Homo sapiens: one gene and its partners. The protein of the gene in region 3 purifies or fractionates together with the protein of the main gene of each other region. This does not show direct contact. Each region holds a gene or a part of one and is shown on either strand. Other genes may lie near its edges.

What was found. The genes of interacting proteins can lie anywhere in the genome.
Region 1: the proteins of PRMT8 (region 3) and ANGEL2 purify together in Homo sapiens (affinity purification with mass spectrometry; 4 studies listed by BioGRID and IntAct, with this or other methods). This does not show direct contact.
Region 2: the proteins of PRMT8 (region 3) and SCAF11 purify together in Homo sapiens (affinity purification with mass spectrometry; 4 studies listed by BioGRID and IntAct, with this or other methods). This does not show direct contact.
Region 4: the proteins of PRMT8 (region 3) and HNRNPR purify together in Homo sapiens (affinity purification with mass spectrometry; 3 studies listed by BioGRID and IntAct, with this or other methods). This does not show direct contact.

The regions. Positions count from the first base shown.
Region 1 is NC_000001.11:212,995,368-212,999,771, reverse strand, and holds part of ANGEL2 (protein angel homolog 2), read left to right. Parts: intron 1-2,453; coding exon 2,454-2,617; intron 2,618-4,404.
Region 2 is NC_000012.12:45,921,603-45,925,478, reverse strand, and holds part of SCAF11 (protein SCAF11), read left to right. Parts: intron 1-404; coding exon 405-751; intron 752-2,324; coding exon 2,325-2,543; intron 2,544-2,896; coding exon 2,897-3,016; intron 3,017-3,284; coding exon 3,285-3,431; 3' UTR 3,432-3,876. UniProt on the Homo sapiens protein: Plays a role in pre-mRNA alternative splicing by regulating spliceosome assembly.
Region 3 is NC_000012.12:3,538,898-3,544,205, forward strand, and holds part of PRMT8 (protein arginine N-methyltransferase 8), read left to right. Parts: intron 1-1,708; coding exon 1,709-1,894; intron 1,895-5,308. UniProt on the Homo sapiens protein: S-adenosyl-L-methionine-dependent and membrane-associated arginine methyltransferase that can both catalyze the formation of omega-N monomethylarginine (MMA) and asymmetrical dimethylarginine (aDMA) in proteins such as NIFK, myelin basic protein, histone H4, H2A and H2A/H2B dimer.
Region 4 is NC_000001.11:23,334,285-23,338,688, reverse strand, and holds part of HNRNPR (heterogeneous nuclear ribonucleoprotein R), read left to right. Parts: intron 1-80; coding exon 81-199; intron 200-827; coding exon 828-935; intron 936-4,404. UniProt on the Homo sapiens protein: Component of ribonucleosomes, which are complexes of at least 20 other different heterogeneous nuclear ribonucleoproteins (hnRNP). hnRNP play an important role in processing of precursor mRNA in the nucleus.

The sequences.
Region 1 (4,404 bases), on a different chromosome or scaffold from region 3:
GGGGTGAAGATGCTGGAATTCTTCATTAAAGAAATAGGAATATTTGGGGCTATGGTTGAGAAATTGATACATGTTAATAAAACAGGACAGAGACTTAAATCTTGTCTCAGGGAGATTCTTGAAATATCTTGATTGTTAATTATATTGTGGCTGTTTTATAGTTTTTTGTTTTAACATTTAAATTTAGGGACCAATTCTCATTTATTTTATCTGCTTCTCAATCTTTATTTTGTATACCTTGTTTTGAGAAAATATTACTACATAAATAAGAACTAGTAAGAATGGAAGCAATTTTTAAAAAAATTTTTTAAATGAATATTTTAAAATTCATGATTAAACCTTTCAATATAGTAAAAACTTCTTTGAATAAGATTAATAAGGAGGCTAATCTAACAAGTACTTCGTTTTGAGTAACTCTTAAATCTTTTTGTAACAATATAGGATATAAAAAAGATATTGGCTGGGCGTGTTGGCTCACGCCTATAATCTCAGCACTTTGGGAGGCCAGGGCGGGAGGATTGCTTGAGCCCAGGAGTTTGAAACCAGCCTGGGCAACACAGTGAGACCCTGCCTCTATTAAAAAAAAAATTAAAACATTCTGGCCGGGCGTGGTGGCTCGTGCCTGTAATCTCGGCACTTTGGGAGGCTGAGGTGGGTGGATCACGAGGTCAGGAGTTCAAGAGCAGTCTGGCCAAGATGGTGAAACCCCATCTTTACTAAAAATACAAAAAATTAGCCGGGCATGGTGGCATGCACGTGTAATCCCAGGTAGGCTGAGGCAGAGTATTGCTTGAACCCTGGGGGGCAGAGGTTGCAGTGAGCCGAGATCGCACCACCGCATTCCAGCCTGGGTGACAAAGCAAGCCTCCGTCTCAATAATGATAATAATTTTAAAAAATAGATACCTTACTTGCCCTTGGTGTCTAAAAATTAAAAGAAAAAAAGAGGCCGGGCGCGGTGGCTCACGCCTGTAATCCCAGCACTTTAGGAGGCTGAGGCGGGCGGATCATGAGGTCAGGAGATTGAGACCATCCTGGCTAACACGGTGAAACCGCGTCTCTACTAAAGATACAAAAAAAAAAATTAGCTAGGTGTGGTGGTGGGCGCCTGTAGTCCCAGCTACTCGGGAGGCTGAGGCAGGAGAATGGTGTGAACCTGGGAGGTGGAGGTTGCAGTGAGCTGAGATCATGCCACTGCACTCCAGCCTGGGCGACAGAGCAAGACTCTGTCTCAAAAAAAAAAAAAAAAAAAGATACTTTTTTGTATCTTTATGTAAATACAGAGTGTTTATATGCATAGCTTATATCTGTAAACTGAAAAATTGATAGATAAGAGTTTGCAGAAGACCTATTTTTATTTATTATTTTTATTTGAGAGTTGATCTCACTGTCATCCAGGCTAGAGTGCAGTGGCATGATCTTGGCTCACTGCAGCCTCCACCTCCCAGGCTCAAGCCTTTCTCCTACCTTAGTCTGCCAAGTAGCTGAGACCACAGGCATGTGCCTCCACGCGTAGCTACTTTTCTAGATTTTTTTTTTTTTTTTGTAGAGATGAGGTCTCACTGTGTTGCCCAGGCTGGTCTCGAGCTCCTGAGCTCAAGCAATCTTCCCGCCTTGGCTTCCCAAAGTGCTGGGATTACAGGTGTGAGCCACCGCGTCCGGCCCTATTTTATGTTTAATATTATAAATCCTTAGACATAAAAAGTTGCTAATAAAACTTAGAGGGCATTTTTAAGGATTTACCTTTGTTCCTGACATATGAACACTTTAAAAGCAAGGGAAACATCTTCATCTATGTATTCTCAGCACCTGACATATTGCCTAGAACTTAGAAGATGTTTGGTAAATGTTTGTTGGATAAGTTTCTTTTTTAATTTTATTTTCCTTCAAGGCATAAAAGATCCTTAAGATTCATAAAGTATCACTAGAAAATAGTCTTTAAACCTTTTACTCATAACATCACATATATTTGTGCATGGGGCAAATATAATAAACCATTAGAGAAGCTGTTTTAAGATGCAGTACAAAATTATATGTGATAGCAAGAAAAATTAGAGAAGAATATGGCCTCTCTGTCATCAAAAGTCTAGAGGATTCCAAATAGTGTTCCTGAAGACCCCCTTGATTCTCTTTCTTAAAAACACAATAAAACTTGTTAGAATACATGTTCTTTAGTAAGTGGAGGCATTCACACGTTATAAATAATGAAAAAACACATTAGTATGTTAATTATTGAGCTTTTTTTAAAAACCACATTTATAATGGCTTTATTGATGGGTTTTAGATATCACTGCATAAGTAAATTAATACTAAATTATGATATGGTCTTTTTAAATAAAGCTTGTCCTAATGTTTGGTCTTAGTCTAGAAATTAAGTGAAAAAGAAATTCAGATAGGAGGAATTCTTGAAGTTACAAAAACTCGGATTCTAAACACTTCTTCTTTTCTATTTAGATTGTCTTCAAATTTACAGCACCATTTCAGTTTGTCATCTGTTTATTCACATTACTTTCCTGACACTGGAATTCCAGAAGTGACCACCTGTCATTCCCGAAGTGCCATAACTGTGGATTATATTTTCTACTCTGCAGAAAAGGAAGATGTTGCTGGGCACCCAGGTAAGGAATGCATGTAATCTTAAATTCTCCTAGAGAGCACAGTAGCTAAAACCTCAAGGTTAAAGTTAAGAAAGCTCTCTAAACATCCAGTTGAAGTTCTAGATCTAGAAGGTAAAAATATTTCGAAATAGACAGATTGGTAATATATTTGAATAAATCAGTTGATTACTTGCATATGAGGGAGGCAATAAAACACATCCAAGCAAATTATTACCCAAGAATTACATTAGCAGTCCTACCCTCCAGTTCCAGTCAGCCTCTGAGTTATAGGTCTTTCATATTGCCCTTTCTTTTTGCTTGCCATAAATTTACTGTTTTTCCTGTGACAGGAACTGAGTATGTTGTTAATGGTCATCATAGTTTTGTGCTTAAATTTTACCGAGGCGTCCTGCCTTCATTGGAGGACCATAGTTACACTGCCAGCAACACAGCTTATGCTGTCATGTTGACTCTGGAATATTGGATTTTTCTGAGGAGGAAAAGTATATATATATATATATATATATATATATATTTTTTTTTTTTTTTTTTGGATACAGAGTCTCGCTCTGTTACCCAGGCTAGAGTGCAGTGGCATGATTCTCGGCTTACTGCAACCTCTGTCTCCCGGGTTCAAGTGACCTTCCCACCTCAGCTTCCCGAGTAGCTAAGACTACAGGCATGAGCCACCATGCCCACCTAATTTTTGTATTTTTTGTAGAGACAGGGTTTCACCGTGTTGCCCAGGCTGGTCTCAAACTCCTGGGCTCAAGCCGTCCACCTCGGCCTCCCAGGGTGGCTTGGATTACAGGCATGAGCCACCACATTCGGTCAGAAAAGTCTATATAATTTTTTTGTTTGTTTGTTTTTGAGACGGAGTCTCGCTCGTCGCCCAGGCTGGAGTGCAGTGGCGCTATCTCAGCTCACTGCAAGCTCCGCCTCCCAGGTTCACACCATTCTCCTGCCTCAGCCTCCCGAGCCACTGGGACTACAGGCGCCCGCCACCATGCCCGGCTAATTTTTTGTATTTTTAGTAGAGACGGGATTTCACCGTGTTGGCCAGGATGGTCTCGATCTCCTGACCTCATGATCTGCCTGCCTCGGCCTCCCAAAGTGCTGGGATTACAGGCGTGAGCCACTGTGCCCGGCCGAAAATCAGGTTTTAAACATTAGCCAAAGGATTTAAAGTGGAGAAGAAAATGCAGTTTAAGATTACTGGAAGTACAAAAATACCTTTAAGAAAACTTTGGAATGTGAGCAGCTGTTTTATTCTTTTCTGATTTTTTTCATTTTTTTCTCTTCCATTTTTTTGGATGCTTCTTTTTCTTTACCCTTTTCCCCTCTGTTTGTTCCCCCCTCCTTTCTTCTGGGAATAACCTTATTAGTAACACTCACGAGATGACTTATTCCTGCCACTAGATCTACTCTACAAAAAATATGCCTGCTGCTTTGAATTTATAGTAAGGTTTTCGTAGTTGTCATGCTGACAGAAGTTCACTTGGTGGCAGGAGAGTGTTATGGATCAGCATTTCAAAAAGAGCATGTCATCTTCACTTCTGTGGGTGCTGACTATCTGGGACTAAATTATACTAATTTATTCTCCATTCACCTTATAAACTGCTACAGGGCTGTGGCCCGGTGTCTCTGGCTTTATGCAACTACAGAATGGTTGCTGGATGAGTTTCTTATGTAGTTGTCAACCACAAATTACCCTTAACATTCTTAAGTATTTCATTTATATTTTCTTCTAAAGATTGTTTACAGAGCTGGAAATAGAAAAAATATCTCAAACTGCTGTGTGTTTGATA
Region 2 (3,876 bases), about 42 Mb from region 3:
CTCCTGGGTTCAAGCAATTCTCCAGCCTCCTGACTAGCTGGGATTACAGGCGCTCACCACCACGCCTGGCTAATTTTTGTATTTTTTTAGTAGAGACGGGGTTTCACCATGTTGGCCAGGCTGCTCTCGAACACCTGACCTCAGGTGATCTGCCCGCCTTGGCCTCCCAAAGTGCTGGGATTACAGGCTTGAGCCACCGTGCCTCGCCAAATGTTTTCTTTCATTAGAAAGTCAGTCCACATTATTTAGAAATGACAGGATTAAATTAAGCAATTGGAGATTGGTATTGGTATACTGAGCCTATTAATTGCTATTTAATTTTACTGTAACCAGTGGTTCTTTGTTTCTCTGTCTAAAGAGATTTATAACATGATTTTTTTCACAAGCTTTTTTTCTTTTGATAGATTCTAGCCTAAAAGACCAAACAAACCAGCAAGTTGATGGTTCTCAGCTACCTATAAATATGATGCAACCGCAAATGAATGTAATGCAGCAACAAATGAATGCACAACACCAGCCTATGAATATCTTCCCATATCCAGTGGGTGTTCATGCTCCTTTGATGAACATCCAACGCAATCCATTTAACATTCATCCTCAGCTACCCTTGCATCTCCACACAGGAGTGCCCCTCATGCAGGTAGCCACTCCTACCAGTGTATCTCAGGGACTACCACCACCACCACCCCCTCCCCCACCATCCCAACAAGTCAACTACATTGCTTCACAACCAGATGGAAAGCAATTGCAGGTATGTTTTTAGCAACTCAAGTTTAATCAATATAGCCATTGTAAACATTTAGCTGTTCATGACAGATGTTCAAAAAAAGGCATCCTGGCATTCAAAAACAATTGTTTATTTGATTTCAGTTATGGTAAACCTTCATAATCCCTCTTTCACTATCCTTCTCAAAACCCCCCAACTCCCAAATTAGAAAATTAATTAAATACTTATTACCAAATCCAAGCTACATATATGCTGTTACTTATATCTGAACAGGATTTTTTTATTCATATTAAGTAAACCAAATTATAAGCCAAATTAGAATCGAGTGGTGGGTGCTTTACATTTTTCCCCTGTTTTGCACTGTTTAGGGGGTATATGGGGACGGTGGGAACTAGTGATTAAGTACTGTGATGAAGCTTTTATTGTCTTGTTCAGACAAACACTGGATAAAGCTGTTTATTATCCATTACCATCTGTGTTTCATTTTCATGAATTTATCATGCTAAAAAGAAAGGAGAAGTGCCTCTGTGAGACATAGAAAATTTGAATAATTTGCAAACAATTTGTTGCTTATAATTTTATGACTGCCTTTTAAAAATTTTAGAATCCTAGGCCGGGCATGGTGGCTCACGCCTGTTATCCCAGCACCTTGTGAGGCCCAGGTGGGTGAATCACGAGGTCAGGATCAGCCTGGCCAACATGGTGAAACCCTGCCTCTACTAAAAATACAAAAATTAGCCGGGTGTGGTGGCAAGCGCCTGTAATCCCAGCTACTAAGGAGGTTGAGGCAGGAGAATTGCTTGAACCCAGGAGGCGGAGGTTGCAGTGAGCCGAGATTGCACCACTGCACTCCAGCCTGGGTGACAGAGCAAGACTCTGTCTAGAAAAAAAAAAATACAAAAATTAGCCAGGCGCGGTGATGCATTCCTGTAATCCCAGCTACTCGGAGGCTGAGGCTCAAGAATCACTTGAACCTGGTAGTCGGAGATTGCAGTGAGCCAAGATCGCGCCACTGCACTCCAGCCTGGGAGACAGAGTGAGACTTCGTCTCTAAATAAATAAATAATTAATTAAAATAAAATAAAATAAATAGAATCCTGACAGTAAGATAGAGTTGAAGGAATAGGGAAATTGGATTTTAGTATTTGGGATCTTAATCTTTTTCTCCTGTCAACTTACTGCAAGCCTTTTTTCTCCTGTCAACTTACTACAAGCCATTTGACTTTACTGCCTTATTTTTTCCAGGCTTTAAAGTGAGGGCACTTTAATATTTGTTAATATTCCTAAAGATCCTTGCAGGAAAGATATAATTCTTTAAATGCTATTCTCCTCCTTGTGTTTAGTATTGCTGTCAAAATGTTACAATACATATATATAATTTAAAAGTCATCTTGACATATCTAAATAAGGCCCCGTTTAAGAATGTTACTCATTTTTCTTTAAAGGGCCCTTTAGATATAATTACCTGAAATATGCATTTTTCTTTAGTACTAAGGTTGGTTTGCTTTGTGTTTTTTAATGTTATTTCTAATGCATCACTAAAAGACTTCTATCGAGTACAAGTAATTCATTAACTGATGATAACTCTTTAAAACAGGGTATTCCTAGTTCTTCTCATGTAAGTAATAACATGAGTACACCAGTTTTGCCTGCTCCGACAGCAGCCCCAGGAAATACGGGAATGGTTCAGGGACCAAGTTCTGGTAATACTTCGTCATCAAGTCACAGCAAAGCCTCTAATGCTGCTGTAAAATTGGCAGAAAGCAAAGTAAGTGTTGCAGTGGAAGCCAGCGCAGATAGCTCGAAGACAGACAAGGCAAGTTCAAGGTTGAGAGCAACCTTCATAATTCTGTATATGATAAAGGAGAAAAAATATCAGCTTTTTATTGTATGAGTGGTGAAGGGAATTTCTTATTGGCTGTCTAAATGCCATTATTATTTGAAGGATTCTCTCTAGATGTGTTGATGTCCAGTAAATTACTGGTAATATTTTATAATTGTTTTTAGAAATGTTTGATATGTTTTAGTAAATAAACTGTTTTATATTTGTCACGTTAATAGTTGGAGAGTCTCTTATTGTAAATATGAAGTATTTTCAATTTCTTGTTTGGGATTTTGTGAGAGCAGTATGACTGGCAAATAATAAATTATACATTTTCTTCTCATCAGAAATTGCAAATTCAAGAAAAAGCAGCACAAGAGGTAAAATTGGCCATCAAGCCATTTTACCAAAATAAAGATATCACCAAGGAAGAATATAAAGAAATTGTACGGAAAGCAGTAGATAAAGTAAGTTATGGCTTTAGTGGAGTATGTGCACGTTGTTTTGAACCACCTCTGTTTTAATAAATGAATGCTGAAGTTTAATTAAAATAATAAAAGCTAGCTCCTACTAATTCCTGTCTACTTTTTTGCCTTTTGATTAGTTTGTGTGAGATAATGAAACATGAAAATAAGTCTGGTTATCTCTTTGGGGTTGTTTTTCACAAAGCTTTCTATTTTGGCTTTAATCCCTTTAAGCATGAAAAAAGTTTACCCCCCACCCCTTTTTTCTTAGGTTTGTCATAGTAAGAGTGGAGAAGTAAATTCTACTAAAGTGGCAAATCTGGTTAAAGCCTATGTAGACAAATACAAATATTCACGGAAGGGGAGCCAAAAGAAAACTCTGGAAGAACCTGTGTCTACTGAAAAAAACATAGGCTGAAATGGGGAACGCTGTCAAGGACATTATCAGGATATCTGCAAAGTGCAATTTCAACATGTACCATTAACTGAAAATCATACATAACTGTGATTGAAATTTGGTTTTGATAAAATTATTTTTTTAACATAGGATATGATGTTTTGTTCTAAATAAATATAGGTCTGCACTGCAACTTCTGTATCCTTCCTTCCCCTCCACCCTCCCCCACAAAATTCAAGGGAAAGTAAAGGGTTTAAAGGAATGTGCATCTTTACTAGGACTGTGTTATAGTGTGGATACTGGAAAATGTATAGCTTTTTGATTAGGGCAATGGAGTGCATAAATTAGAAACTTCTAAGTGCACTGGTTTTCAAAGAGATATATATAATGCATTTATTCTGTCAGGTTAAAATGTAAAGTATGATCTTTATGATTTTTTCCCTCTAATTATAGAAAGTTAAATAAT
Region 3 (5,308 bases):
TGCTTATTTCCCAAGGGCGGTAGCCTAGGTACACTGGGAAGATGGGACCATCCCACTGCCCCCAGCTCACTCCCCTGCAGCCCTGGACACAGAACAGTCTTGGGACTGCGCGGAGTGATTCCACGGAGGGGTTGAAATAACTTGGCTTTCTTGATCTTGCTGTGTCCTAGGATTCCCCTGTTTCTCTTGCTAGAAAGGAGACAGTAAGTCTGAGCTGACCCAGCTCACAGACAAGAAAATCGAGACATAGAACAAGGACATGATGTATGTAATAATCATAAGCACTTACTATGTGCCAGCCTGTTCTAAAGTCTTTCCATATATCAACTCCTCCAAACTTTTGGACAAATTTTTCAGGTAGGTTTTATTATGATTTGTGTTCTATAGAGGAGGAAAAGCTGAGGCACAGTGATGACAAATTATTTCCCAAGGTCACACAGCCAACAAGCGCTGGGTTTCAGAGTCAGGCACTGTGGCTCCAGGGTTTGTACTTTCAGCCAGTTCGCTATCTGCCTCCTAGTATCTATTTTTAATTTTACTAGAGCCAGGATAGGACCCAGGAGCCTGGATTCCCAGCCCTAGAGGACTGACTACTAGATAATACTCCTTTTTTTATTTTTCTAGTTCAGCCCTGCTTTGAGGCCTTTACTGTGCCTTGTACATCTGGGTCTCCTGCACTCCAGGCAGAGGAGGTCTCCTGGCATAACTGCTTCTGTTGCAGTGTTTGAGCTTCTGGGCTCCAATTGCTGTCTCTGGGCTCCAGAAGCTCTGTGGACCCCCATCTCCTTCTCCCTGCTCCGCCTAGCCTGTGGAGGACCAGGGAGCAGACAGTGATGGGCAGCAGCAGTGGGTGTAGAGCTGGGCTGGGCCTCAGGATTGGGGCACCCAGAAATAGCAATAATTGGTTGTGTGGAGGCCATCAGTGTGGGTATCCACAGTGCTGAATTCAGGGTAGAACTGTGAATCAGAAACTAGGGGGCAAGACAACAGGTAGGAGACACCAGAACCTAAGACATCTGCATTTTGGGGGCCGTATCCTCTTCTAGCTTGATGCTGCCTGTTGAGTGGAGAGAAGCCCATGGGTTCACGTTCCTGAGGATGCAGGTGGGACTTCGTTTCCTCTAACAAACTCTTACTATATGCCTGGCCCTTTTCTAAGCACTTTGAAATACAAACTTGTCTAATCCTCAGGACAACTCTAGGAGGCAGGGACCATTTTATTCCCATTTTAGAGAAAAGGAAACTGAGGCACTGAGAAGTTCATAAGTTTGCCCAAAGTTGTATAGCTGGGAAATGGCAGAGCTGGGATTCAGCTCCGGAATCTACACTCTCAGGCACCATGCTGTGCTATGCATCTTTCCCTTTATTGAATGTTTCCTATTTGCCTTCAAAGGAAGATACTATTTTCCCCATTTCACAGATACAGAAACTGAGGCCTGCATTGCTCAGGTCACCTAGCTAATAAGAGCTGAAGGTGGGTGAAATCTAGGTGTGTGTGGCTCCTCGGTGGACTGCCATCTCTGGACAGATCACAGCCATGAGCCCAACTGCTGGGAGCTGGAAGGGCTCACCTACCTCCCTTTCAGGAAGGGCTGCTGTGGCTGCTTGAGGCCGGGCTCAGGGAGGGGGAAGGAAAGAGGACCGCAAGCCTCCGAGGGCGGGACCCCGTTGTCTCTCCTAACACCCGACCCCCTTCTCTTCCCCTCAGGTGAACAGCCCCCCCTCCCAGCCCCCCCAGCCCGTCGTCCCTGCTAAGCCCGTGCAATGCGTCCATCATGTGTCCACTCAACCCAGCTGCCCAGGACGGGGCAAGATGTCCAAGCTGCTGAACCCAGAGGAGATGACCTCGAGAGATTATTACTTCGACTCCTATGCCCACTTTGGGATCCACGAGGTAAAGTGTCCCGAGTGGGTGGCTAATGGGGCGAGGCTGACTCTGCTGTTCTGTTGTTTTCAGAGGCAGCATAGTGTGTTCAACTCCTTACCATGGTAAAGGGAGTGCTCCCAGTGTTCCTGAGTCCTCTGACCCTTTCTCCAATCCGGGGGGCCCCTCTGGGAGGGGGCCAGGCCAGGCCTGGAGCAGGGGAGCAGGTGAAAGTGTGTGTCTGTATACTCCACAGCCAGAGAGAGCACACAAGGTGCTTACGGTCCATTTGTTTTACATTCCAGCTCCCGTGTCTCTCCCCAGCCATAAACCCAGCTCATCCATTGTGGGCTGGATAGCGCTGGTCTTTGGACCAGGAGCTCAAATGCTGCAGTCAGAGTCCTGAGGCAGCAAGGACCTTTCAGAGGTCATGATGTGCATTCTTTTGACCAATGAGCACCTCCGGGGGAAGAGCTGCAGGAAGCTTTCTTGGGAGCTTGGCCCAGGTCTGACACCCTGATTGATTGTCTGGAAATTCTTATGTCTAAATGCCAGTTTACCCCATAGCAGGGAAGACTAATGTTGACTATGGAACAGAACAGAACCTCCTAACAAGAGGCATCCTGGCCATAGTGGGGGCCTAATGGTGCCCCTACTGTATATCTTTCATTATAATCTCCAGCACTCTCTCCAGCCACCCCAAATAAACAAGTAGGATTTACTGAGTGCTTGCTAAGTGACAGGCACAGTTCTAAGCACATTATACGTATCATTTCATTTAAACTCTATGAAGAAAATATGTCCGTGATCCTCTTACAGCATAAGAAAAAATTGAAAAAGGAACAAAAGTTTGCTTGCTGTGCAAATCGGTTTTCAAAACAAGTCTTGAAGATCTTCCTTCCACGTACTCACTGCTGTAAACTCTTCCTATGTGGAAATGATGACCCTGCCATTGCCGGAAGGGTGTTTAGTAATAATAGCCAGCTCTTTTGTTTGTTTGTTTCGTTTTAGTGCTTACTACGTGCTGGTGTTGTTCCAAGCATTTTATATTATTGGTTCATTTATTCTTCAGGTCAATCCTGCAAGGTTGGTGTTATTGCTTGTCCCCATTCTCCAGATGATTTAGGCCCTTAAGAATCAAATCAACCCTCATTCATCCTTGACGGTTTTTTTGTGTGCGTGTGTGCGTGTGTGAAAGGCCACAAGCTAGTAGATGGCACAGCTAGCAATCAAACCTTCACCTTTTGTTCCTAACCATCATGCCATACAGCCCTTAAAACAAGTTTCCTTTCTTTCCATCTGGAAACTGTAAAAATTAAATTGCCATATTTGTTCCTGCTGGTTCTTCTGCAGCCCTACATGGAGGTAGAGGGTGGAAGGAGGCCCCCCAGTTACTTCTAGACTCAGGGGCTCAGCCTCATTTAATCCAGGGAGGCTCAAGGTTTGGGTCCCTGAGAACTGTTCACCATGTAAAACCATTAAGCCTGGACCTGCAGGGGAGGAGGACTGGGGCCTGTGTTCGGTCCAGAAGGTCCTGGCCCAGGAGGGCCTGGACAGCTGAGCCTGCAGCTTCTGGGAGATAAAATGCCATCTCAGGGCAGATGGATGAACTCTTACCCCTTCCTTGACCCTGCTCTCCACTGGGCTAGGGATTCCTGGAGCCCCATCCTTGGCCTGTGAGAGGCTCTTGGGGGCAAAAGAGACTCTGCGAAGGCCCCTTCCTCAAGACCTTGTCCCTAATTAAAAGTCATGTTCTCCATGTGACAAGTTCTAACAGGCCTGTGGCTCTGGGTACCCATTTCAGGACAGATTCTTGGGAAAAGAGAGCAGTTCCAGGGACCCCAAAATGTCTCCTCTTGGGCCTGCCCAGAACTCCCCCATTAGAAACCAAACAACCATGAGGTGCACCTCAAGCTGGGTCTGCAGTCTCCCCTCCCCACTCGGAGCCTCCGTGATCGGCTTCTTGGACACCTCCCTCTGAGTTGCTAGGTTCCTGCTGAGCCACACCTTTGGCGTTTAGAGTGTGCTCCACTAGGCTATTACCGATCTCTATAATTCCTTTGGGACTTGGTGTCCCCAGCCTGTTACCTACAGCTTGGCACATTGTCTGGAGAGCAAAGGCTTGTTGACATGGCTGCTAATCCAGTCATTCAGGCGATGCCTGGTCAGCACCATGACCCAGCACCCAGGGGAGAGGACATCAAGTTTCACCAAATAAATACTAGACCAGTTTCCCTCAATTGTGTGTACTTATGGAAAAGTCAAGCTTGTGCATACGTATATATAAACATAGTGCGGGCTGAGCAGGGGACTTAGAGTATAAGACCTGTGAGTCATAGATCACATTCCTGTCCTGGGAGAGTGCTTAGCAGCCTTCCCATTGGGAAATACTTCTGGACATCTAGCTTAAATCCCTCCTGCTGCTGCTATAGACCATCTCATAGGTCCTTTAATGCAGGAACAGCTAGGTAACCTTCCTTCCCCCCGAGGTCTCCTTTTACCCTGTTTTCAGTTTCCCAGATCATCTGCATGAAAGGAGGTGGGGGGCACGTGGAAGAACTTTTAACACCATTCTTCGCAGAGAGAAGGCCTACCCAGTTCTTGTTATCAAGCACCAGGGATCTCTGTTCCATGCCAGATGGATCGTGGTGATGCCCTTGCCTCCTTGGTCTGGGCAAGACCCATATTTCTGCATCCATCTGGAGCCACGCTGGCCATTTGGCAGTCTTCTCCCCATCATTAACAAGACCCTCACACGGTGGGGAGCAGCCCCACCGGCCTGCTGATTAATAGCCATCAGTGAGTGTTGAGGAAACGTGGTGCGGATAGACTGGGTTTGATTGATCTGTAAATACAAACAAGAAATGCTGAGTACAGGGGACTATTGGGGCTGGAGAGCACAGCAGGGGGTGACTCTGGACACTTCTGTTCTCATCCCATGCTCCATTCAGAGACAACTCTATCCCCAGCCTCCAGAGGGCAGGGGCTAGCGAGAGGAAGACCCTAGCCTTCCAATTTAGGCCTCTCTGGGAAACATGGAATCTTGAACAGGAGCTGAAGTGGAAGATGTGTGCTTCCTGAGGCCGCCACCTAGAGAGGAGGTGGTAGGCTCCATGACCTCCCAGACCCCAGCTCTGAAATCTCAGCGTCTCTAACAGTCGGCACTGGGCTTGGTGCCTCAGCCACGAGAAGAATCTTTGCCAATGCGGCTGTCCCTCCAGCACCCTGAGCTCTGGGTGCCAATCCCACTCCCGGCCAGCTCCCTTCCTTTGACACTCTCGCTGCAGGTTCTGTTGAAACAGACTCTTTGGGGCCTTATAGTCCAACAATTTGTCAATGGGCAGTCATATATTTAATAGGCAGGAAAGCCAGGACACAAGTGAATCCACAGCTAGAGGCTGGGAACTGTTTTCCACAGGGTGGCATGTTCCTTCCTGAAATGTC
Region 4 (4,404 bases), on a different chromosome or scaffold from region 3:
CAATTCTTGATTAAACGTCAGTAGAGCTTAGATTACCCCTTTTGTTGCAATAACGTTACCCCTTTCAATTTAATTTTTAGGATTGGTAGCTTATGTCGATCTTGATGAAAGAGCAATTGATGCTCTCAGGGAATTTAATGAAGAAGGAGCTCTGTCTGTACTACAGCAGTTCAAGGAAAGTGACTTATCACATGTTCAGGTAAGGTCGTTACTCAGAAATGTCTTTGAACAATTAGTAATCTGAAATTATTTTACTATTACTTTTTTTCCTATGGAGAAGTGGTATTTTTTGTTTGTGACTACCTCTTCTTTTAAAAAATTAGTTTAAAGGAAAAAAACTGCTTGTGGCAGAGTTTCAGAAGCCCAAGTATAAAGCAAAAGTTTTCTCCCACCCCCTTGTGCAGTAAGTTATTTTAAAAACTTAAAATTAAAGCCAAGTTTTGATGGTTGTTACTATAGGTTTTTACATGTTACTCAGCTTTTTAACATTTGGGGGTTATTTGATCCTGTTTTATTATCTTGGAGGAAAATGTAGGTGGGAGGAATAGTTTCCGACATCTGGCAAAGACAGTCTAGATACAGTCACATATCAACAAGTGGAAGACTGTGTTTTCCCAGGGTAGAAGGTAAGCTCCCTGAGGTCTATACTGCCTTACTGCTGTCTGCTCCAATCTCTGGCACATAGTAACCACTCGGCAAATACTTGTTGAATGAATCAGTAAATCTTTTGTTAAAATCCTGGTTTTCTGAAATTTAAATTTAATTATGTATCTGACCCTTCAGATATTTTTGGTGATTCTTTTTATTGAATTACTTGTCTGTTCTAGAACAAAAGTGCATTTTTATGTGGAGTTATGAAGACCTACAGGCAGAGAGAGAAACAGGGGAGCAAGGTGCAAGAGTCCACAAAGGGACCTGATGAAGCGAAGATCAAGGTAAAACTTGACTTGGGTAGTTGTAATGAAATTGCATTTAATGATGAGGTCAAATGCCTCTTTCCATGTTTCCTAGAAAGTTTCACTTTTTTTTTTTTTGAGACGGAGTCTTGCTCTGTCGCCCAGGCTGGAGTAGCGGCGCAGTCTTGGATCACTGCAAGCTCCACCTCCCAAGTTCATGCCATTCTCCTGCCTCAGCCTCCCAAGTAGCTGGGATTACAGCCATGCACCACCACACCCAGCTAATTATTTGTATTTTTAGGAAAGATAGGGTTTCACTGTGTTGGCCAGATTGGTCTCGATCTCCTGACCTTGTGATCCGCCCACCTCGGCCTTCAAAGTGCTGGGATTACAGACGTGAGCCACCACGCCCAGCTGAAAGTTTCACTTTTCAAAACTAGTGTTTAGAAATGAAATAATTTAGAGGAATTACATAAGAAGGATAATTTTGGGGATCGACACTCAATTGCATGTTTAATGAAAAGCCCTAATTCATACTCTTCCTCATTCCCTCTTTTGTGGCCATGAATGACGTATATTTATTGATGCTTCGCTGGTAGTTTCTTGGATTGATCCAGTAATGTCTCTTGGTTCAGTTATTTTCCAGCCACTTTGTTTCTTTTCTCTTGATAAAAAGGTTATAACTTGATAAAAAGTTGTTATAACTGCTTTCCTCCTTTTGAATATTCAGTTACCTCAGTTTCTTTATTTATAAAATGGGGATAGTAATAGTGACTACCTTACAGAGTTATTGTAAGGAGTAAATGAATTAACATATATAAAGCACTTAGAATAATGCCTGGAATGTAGCAAGAACTATATAACCATGAACCATTATTATTATTACCATTTTATTACTTAGATAAACAGCTTTGAAAAGGTAAATATACAGCTTTTAATGAAAGACCAGTGAACCTAATTCCTTAGTTAAATGGATACTCGTGTCTTGCTGTAGTGACATACTTTTCTTTTTTTTTTTTTTTTTTGAGACAGAGTCTCACTCTGTGGCCCAGGCTGGAGTGCTGGAGTGCAGTAGCGCCATCTCAGCTCATCTCAGCTCACTTCAACCTCTGTCTCCTGGGTTCAAGCGATTCTCCTGCCTCAGCCTCCTGAGTAGCTGGGACTACAGGCGTGCGCCACCACATCCAGCTAATTTTTTTTTTTTTTTTTTTTTTTTTTTTTGAGACGGAGTCTCCCTCTGTCGCCCAGGCTGGAGTGCAGTGGCGCGATCTCAGCTCATTGCAAGGTCTGCCTCCTGGGTTCACGCCATTCTCCTGCCTCAGCCTCCTGAGCAGCTGGGACCACAGGTGCCTGCTACCATGCCCGGCTAATTTTTTTTTTCTTGTATTTTTAGTAGAGACAGGGTTTCACTATGTTAGCCAGGATGGTCTCAATCTCCTGACCTCATGATCCGCCCGCCTCGGCCTCCCAAAGTGCTGGGATTACAGGCGTGAGCCACCGTGCCTGGCTGCTAATTTTTTTTGTTTTTTGGTAGAGTCGGGGTTTCACTGTGTTAGCCAGGCTGGTCTCAAACTCCTGACCTTGGGGGATCTGCCTACCTCACCCTCCCCAAAGTGCTGGGATTACAGGTGTGAGCCACCATATCCGGCCTGTGATAGACTTTTTTTTTTTTTTTTGAGACGGAGTCTCGCTCTGTCGCCCAGGCTGGAGTGCAGTGGCGGGATCTCGGCTCACTGCAAGCTCCGCCTCCCGGGTTCACGCCATTCTCCTCCCTCAGCCTCCCGAGTAGCTGGGACTACAGGCGCCCGCCACTACGCCCGGCTAATTTTTTGTATTTTTAGTAGAGACGGGGTTTCACCATTTTAGCCGGGATGGTCTCGATCTCCTGACCTCGTGATCCGCCCGCCTCAGCCTCCCAAAGTGCTGGGATTACAGGCGTGAGCCACCGCGCCCGGCTGTGATAGACTTTTTAATTAGAAATAGTTATTGTATGTTGAAGTTATTTCTATTATTATTACATTGTAATATGTAATGAAATAATTATACAACTCACCATAATGTAGAATCAGTGGGATCCCTGAGCTTGTTTTCCTGCAACTAGATGGTGCCATCTGGGCATACTGGTAGATGGTGACAGATCTTCAAGCATTAGATTCTCATAAGGAGCATGCAACCTAGATCCCTTGTATGCACACTTCACAATAGGATTCACCCTCCTGTGAGAACCTAATGCGGCTGCTGATCTGACAGGAGGTGGAGCTCACAGCTCAGGCAGTAATGCCAATGATAGGGAGGATGAGGAGCGGCTGTAAATACAGATGAAGCTTTGTTCTCACTTGCCCGCTATTTACCTCCTGCTATGCAGCCCGGTTCCTAACAGGCCATGGACCAGTACGGGTCTGTGGCCCAGGGGTGTGGGGACCCCTGTTTTATATTACATTTATGGCTCTGTTTCAGTCAAAGGTAGAAGAATGGAAGGCCGAAGGCATGCATCCCTGTGAAATCCTAGTGTTCACTGAACTTGATGATATCTAAAGTCTCTTATTGTTCTGACATTGTGTAATTTTAAAAACCTGGCTGGGCTCTGTGGCTCACGCCTGTAATCCCAGCACTTTGGGAGGCTGAGGCGGGTGGATCACGAGGTCAGGAGATCGAGACCATCCTGGCTAACAACGGTGAGGCCACCTGTCTACTAAAAATACAAAAAATTAGCCGGGTGTGGTGGCAGGCGCCTGTAGTCCCAGCTACTTGGGAGGCTGAGGCAGGAGAATGGCGTGAACCCGGGAGGCGGAGCTTGCAGTGAGCCAAGATCGCGCCACTGCACTCCAGCCTGAGCGACAGAGCGAGACTCCGTCTCAAAAAAAAAAAACCAAAAAAACTGAAGTGTAAATTTCTCTTTTCTAGGTAGATTGTGTTTCTTTGTTTACCATTGTATCTTTTCTTCTCTAAGCTCTTTATATAGATGTTGCCTCAATTATAACATAAATTCCTGAGAGCAAGGAGATTATCTTCTTTTCTATGATTGCTCTTAATACCTAATAGAATGTAAGGAAGGTTGGTAATCAGGAAACACAAGATTTTACTTATTTTTCGGAACCTGACTATACTTATTTGGTAATTGCCAAATATTTTTAGTCTGTACTGTATGATTCTTGTCTGATTACCTGATTCTTGTGGAGCTTATGATATGGCAGGAGTACAAACCAGAAGGATCAAACAAAATCAAGCTTAAATGATGGAACTTTAAGTACACTAGAGGCTGGGTATGGTGGCTCATTCCTGTAATCCCAGCACTTTGGGAGGCCAAGTCGGGTGGATCACGAGATCAGGAGATTGAGACCATCCTGGCTAACACGGTGAAACCCTGTCTTTACTAAAAATACAAAAAATTAGCCGGGCGTTGTGGCGGGTGCCTGTAGTCCCAGCTGCTCGGGAGGCTGAGGCAGGAAAAGGGCGTGAACCTGGGAGGCGGAGCTTGCAGTGAGCCGAGATCGCGCTACTGCACTCC